2 separate regions of the Homo sapiens genome follow, and region 2 is linked to region 1. Evidence: fine-mapped expression QTL. A gene starts in region 1. The other region holds a variant in brackets. All regions are shown on one strand. Distances are from middle to middle.

What was found. PIP is the estimated chance that this variant, and not a neighbour inherited with it, causes the effect. A credible set is the group of variants that fine-mapping cannot tell apart.
Region 2: its variant is the best candidate, but not a certain one, in a credible set for the expression of NSD2 in sun-exposed skin (GTEx, PIP 0.60).

Annotation. Positions count from the first base shown.
Region 1 is chr4:1,870,207-1,873,103 of GRCh38, reverse strand. NSD2 (nuclear receptor binding SET domain protein 2) reads right to left here and starts at 1,711. Exons shown (of 22, transcript NM_001042424.3): 1 at 1,562-1,711. RefSeq lists silencers at 1,278-1,977, 2,028-2,257, 2,288-2,547 and an enhancer at 2,281-2,782.
Region 2 is chr4:2,304,390-2,307,286 of GRCh38, reverse strand. It overlaps ZFYVE28 (zinc finger FYVE-type containing 28), which reads left to right. Exons shown (of 13, transcript NM_020972.3): 8 at 1,751-2,897. Among named protein-coding and RNA genes, the nearest start is that of MXD4, 44 kb to the right of the region's middle. The variant A/G (reference allele first, on the strand shown) is at 1,216.

The DNA.
Region 1 (2,897 bases):
GAAATGACTCAAAGTAATCGTGCTTAAAGCATGAGTCCTCTTCATCTCCATTTGGCAGTTTAGATTTGAACCACCATCAGTTGTGGGGAATGAGAGCACACATCAAGTACACAAGGAAAGGCTGTGCTCACAGAACTTGTTTGCTTTATGTTGTTGGCGTTCTGCTCTTTAAAATATTGTTGTTCTCATCACATTTAAATACGTAACTAGGGCACTTAAAACATTTTGGGAAAATTAAAAAGTTTAAGTCCCAAGTTCATAAATGGGATGGCTCCTAAGTTATTTTCCACGTTGATATTTGAAATACACAAAATAGAGTGAATATAACCCATGCGTGATGCTGGCGTTTAACTCATTTAAAAATCAAGGCTTGAAAGTCTGTGAAGCAGGTGGGTAGCACTGAAGAGCTGCTCCTGAGCCAGGCCTGAACTTTATCCAATTAGTCTTGTCTTCACAGGGTCTGCGCGCTCTCTCTCTCTCTCTCTCTCTCTCTCTCTCTCTCTCTCTCTCTCACACACACACACACACACACACACACAAAATACACGTTATCTACCTAAAAACGATTAACGTCACCACATCAGTTTTGATACTATGTTTCCACTTGAATGTCAAAGCCCATCGTGGGCACAGAAAGATTCGTGCTGCAATGGGTCCTATACAATACCCTCATCCATTTTATTTCTACCGAAACTTAAGACCAGCATTTTTTAAACGCCGAGATTTTAAACCACGGTTCCTGTGAGTGGAGCAAAACCAGCCATTAAGTCGCCAGGTCCCATCTCATGCACTGAGGCTTCAAGGACTATCAATCTGCATCCTGGGGCGAGGGGAACATCCCAGGCGGAGGCCCGGACGCCGAGGGCGCGCAGCCCCCCAGCAGGGTACCCACACCCGGCTCACCCCCGCCTCCACCTGCCAAGGGCCGGACCGCGGCCCGGCTTCCCGGGGGAGCGTCCGCGCTGACCAACGCCCGGGCGCCGCGAGTGTCAACGCCAGACACCGCCTGCAAACAAAAAGCGACCCTCGGCCCGACCCCTGGCCCCGGCGCCGGCCCCGGGACCCCAACCTGCCCCTCCCACCGCGGCCGCCCCGGACCGGGGGCGCCGCACAAAGGCCGGCCCGACCCGCTCGGCGCCGCGGGAACAAAGGCGGCCGCCTCGGCCGGGCCGGGCACAGGTGCAGCCGCAGGGCCCGGCCGGGCCCAACATGGCCGCGCCCGCCCGCCCGGCCCCGTTAGCCGCCGCCGCCCGCAGGCCGCCGCCCCTCCCCTGCCCGGACTCGTCCCGGCCTCCGCGGTCCGCCCGGTCCTCCCGCCGGCCCTCAGGCCTCCGCGGTCCTCGCGGTCCCCACGACCCTCTCAGGCCGCCCGGCCTCCCGGTCCCCCAGCCCCTGAGCCGGCCCCTCAGGCCTCCTCAGTGCCCCCACTCCTCCCGGCGCTCCCGCCCCCTCAGGCCTCCGCGGTCCTCCCCGCCGCCCCTCAGGCCTCCCACAGCCCGGCCTCCCGGCCCCAGCCCCGGCGGTTGGCGGCCCGCGACTGTTGGGCGGGCGCCCCAGTGACCTGCGGTGCGTCGCATCCTCGGCGGGCGGCTCTCCGGAGCGGCAGGCTGGGAGGGGGCCGGGGCCGTGCGGCGGTAGGGCCCAGGCGGGGAGGGGGCGGCGGCGGCGGCGGGCGCAGCGCGGCCAGGCCGAGGCTCTCGCGCGCGGCGCCGACCCCGCCCCCGCGCCTCCCGCCCGCCGCCGCCGCCGCAGCCGGGGCCGCCGCCGCCTCGCAGAAGCCGCGGGAAAAGTGCGCGCCGCTGATTGGCTGCCGCGCTCGCGGGGCCCGCGGACCGGGCTTTTCAAATCCGCGCCGGGGCCGCGCACGGGCGGGGCGGGCAGGCACGCGGCGGGTGGGGGCCGCGCGGGCGGGCGGGGCTGGCAGCGCCGGGAGGGCCGGGCCGCGGGCCCCGCGAGCCGCCTCAGAGTAGCGCCGGGCGCGCGCCCTGCTCCCGCTACTCGGCGGCGCGCACCCGGCCCAGACCCGGCGCCCGCGGGCGCCGCGCTCAGTGACGTCACGATCCGCGCCCAATCACCGTCCGGAGCCGGCGCCCCCGAGCCGTGGGCGCGCGGCCGCGGAGGCTGGCGTTGGGCGCGCGGCCCGCCCGCGCGGGTCCCCAAGCTCCTGTCCCGTGAGAGGGGCGCGGGGCCTGGGGCCCGCGGGAGGCTGCTAGCGGCGTCCGCCTCGCGGAGCGGCAGTGCGGGGACGGGTGGGGAAACCGCCGCAGAGGCCCCGCCGTGGCGGGCCCGGAGCCTCAGAACAGACGTGGCGGAGAGGGTCAGACGCCACGACGGGGCAGGGCAGGGCGTCGTGCTCTTCCCGCCTAACGGCCGCAGGGCGTGAACGAGTCCCCCGGGCGAGGGTCCGACCCGGAGCTGGGCGCGGCTGCGGGAGGACCGCTCGCGAGGGGAGGACGCCTGGTCCAGGGGCGCTACCCCAGCGCCGCTGCGGTAGAGCCGGGCTTCAGGGGGTGGCGCGGGCGACTGCGTGCGGCACAGGGAGGAGGAGGAAGCGGCGCGGGCGAGCGGGGAAGTCAGACGCTGCAAAAAGTGGGCGGGCCGGGCGGTTGAAGCCGGTGTGATTTGCTGCCCGCCGCCCATGGAAGTTCGGCTCCTGCCTCCAGGTGCTGCCGGAGCCGGCGGCCTTGGGTTTTCTGTCACGCAGGTTCAGGGAGCCGGGAACACCTTCGGCCTTGAGCCTTAGTGTCTGCTCGAGCTTTACAGGCCCAGCTTGAGCCCTCGCTGAGAAGCGGGCCCAGGGGAGCCTGGCGAGAGTTTGGTCAAGGAGAGCTTTGTGAAAGTGCGCTACCCGGGCTATAGAACGACACCTCAGCCCAGGTCCTGCCTCCCCGGACCCA
Region 2 (2,897 bases), 430 kb before region 1:
AAATATATAAAGAACTCAATCAATAAGAAAAAGGCAGACAACCCAATTAGTAATGGGCAAAAAGCTTGAACAGGAACTTTACATAGAGAAAATCTAAGGGCTGATAAGTAAACTGTGACCGACTTCATTGGTCATCAGGCTAAAACAATGGAAAGCCATAATAAGATAAGATACTATTACTCACTCACCAGGAAGGATTCAGTTAAAGACAGTAGTGCTCTCGAGGGCCTGGGGCAAGCCATGCTGTCAGCCAAGCTGTGGGCAGGTGTGCCTGGATCCCGGCTGCTCCCCTCTGTCAGGCTCAGCAGTCCCACCCCATGTGTGCATTCAGCAGAAATGCCCTCGTATGTTCTTCAAGAGAGATACACGAAGATGCTGGGTCACAGCAGCCAAAACCTGTCGGGTGTAACAGATAAAGGAACTACGTATATTTACCCCATGGAAGACGGTGCAGCCACAAGAATGAATGACCTATGGCAACGTGCTTTATGATGGGTGAATCTTACGAAATAGCGTTGCCAGATCTAGTAATACAACAGCAGAAAGCCCAGTTCAGTTAGAATTTCAGATAAACAAAAAACTCTTTTTAGTGCATGTCCCAAATGGGCAGCATTTGGAGTACACTTACAACTATTTCTAATGACATTTTAAAAGTACTTATTTGTTGTTTATCTGAAATTGAAATTTAACTGGGTGTCCTATATTTTATCTGGAGATTCTACACAAATATAACATCAGCAAACAAATCCTGCCACAAGAGAGTGTAGACTGAGAATTCCCATTTCCTCAGAGAAGCAGAGCAGGTGCGTGCCTCGGCCTATGGAGTCAGGATGGTGTCATGCGAGAGCCAGGGTGCCGGGGGCCTGGTTGGGGTTTCACTTCTAAATCTGGGTGCTATTCACATGGGTGGATTCAGCTTATGAAAGTTCTGCCCAGCTCTGCAAAGCGCACTTCCTCACAATAGCCATGGCTGTGCTGGAATGTCCCATGTGGGACTCAGACCACAGACACACCCGGAGCTTCTCGCAGCAGAGAGCAGCCCACAGTCGGCCTGTAGGAGCCTGCTCCAGGAGCTTCCTGCTCAGCATCACTGAATTAACTGCACCTTTGGGTCTCGGCCTCAATGCTTCTTCCTCCAGGAAGCCTTCCCGGCCTCAGCCAGGTGCCCTGCTGCACCCTCCTTCATGGCTTGCATTGTCTTTGGTTGCAGCTGTC[A/G]TTATTGTAGTTCAGTCATTGTTTGTATAAATGCTTGTTTATCATCTGCCTCACCCAACTGCAGGCTAAGTCCACAAGGGCAGGAGCATGCCTGCCTTCTTCCTCGTGTCCTGGTACCCAGCTCCTGCTGCATAGCCAGTGCCCAATGGTATTTGTGGAATGAAAGGATGAAGGTTTATGTGTAAACCAGCATGTATTTTTTCACTCCTTAGAGTTTTTATTCATGCAGCTAACACATGCCTAACAATTAGGGCTTTCTTCTTTTCAGCAAAAGTTTCCAGAATCTTGTTTTAAAAAAGAAACTGTACTAGAATCCCAGCCGGCCACCTTGAACACCGTTGTCCTGGCCGGCGAGACCGGAGCCTTGTTCCGTGGTGGAGGAGACGTGCTGGTGCCTTGAGAATTCAGTTGCAAGCATTCAGTGCCTGGCTGTTGTTCTGCTGGTGCAGACTCCAGGGTGCTGCGTCCACTCCTGGCCAAGGAGGCTGGTGTGGCTTTTGGGACCCTCACCCTTGGGTTTTGTCTTGATTCGTAGGGATTTGCTGCAGACGCTGACGGAGGAGGAGCTGCACACGCTGGAACGGAACCTCTGCATTTCCCAAGACGTGGAGTTCCCCATCCGCGCAGACGTGCAGGGACCCGCTGCCCTGGCGCCTGCCCTCTCTGCCCCTCTCCCCCCTGAGGGGCCACTCTCAGCTAAGGCCAAAGACCCGGATGCAGAGCTGGCCTGCTCCATGCAGTACGACGACCAGGAGCTGGAGCAGCTCAGCCGCATGGTCCACAGGGCGGGGGACGAGATGTCCTCTTTGCTTTCACCGCCCATTGCCTGCCAGTCCCCAGCTCACAGGCCAGGAGCGGAGGGCAGCCCAGGCGGGGAGGCCTCTCCAGGTAGACCGCGCCTGCGGTCAGGCAGTGACGAGGAGGAGCGCGTGTTCTTCATGGATGACGTGGAGGGGACGGCAGAAGCCCTGGCCAGGCCCGAGTCCCCAGCTGGCCCATTTGGGTGGGCAGGCAGTACCTGGGCCGACCCCCAGGAGAAAGGGCAGGGTGGGCCAGGCGGAGCGGCGGGGATCAGCTTGCCCGCCTCGGAAAAGGAGGAGGACTTGAGCAACAACAATCTCGAGGCCGAGGGCACAGATGGGGCCAGCCTCGCGGGCACCAGCTCCTGCAGCTGCCTGGACTCGCGGCTGCACCTGGACGGCTGGGAGGTGGGTGCGGATGACGCAGAGACGGCTGAGATGATCGCCCACCGGACAGGGGGCATGAAGCTCTCAGCCACGGTCATCTTCAACCCCAAATCGCCCACTTCCCTGGACTCTGCGGTCGCCACCCAGGAGGCCGCCTCGGAGCCCGTGGCCGAGGGGATGGATGGCGGCCCCCACAAGCTTAGCACTGGGGCCACCAACTGCCTTCTGCATTCCTGCGTGTGCTGTGGGAGCTGCGGGGACAGCAGGGAGGACGTGGTGGAGCGTCTGCGGGAGAAGTGCAGCCCGGGAGGCGTCATTGGTGCCTCGTACGCTGCCGGCTTAGCCAAGGCCAGCGACAGGGCCCCTGAGAGACAGGAGGAGGCGCCCCCACCCTCAGAAGATGCCTCCAACGGGCGGGAGCCCAAAGCCCCCACTTCCGACAAGTGCCTGCCTCACACCTCAGGTTCCCAGGTGGACACAGCGAGTGGGCTGCAA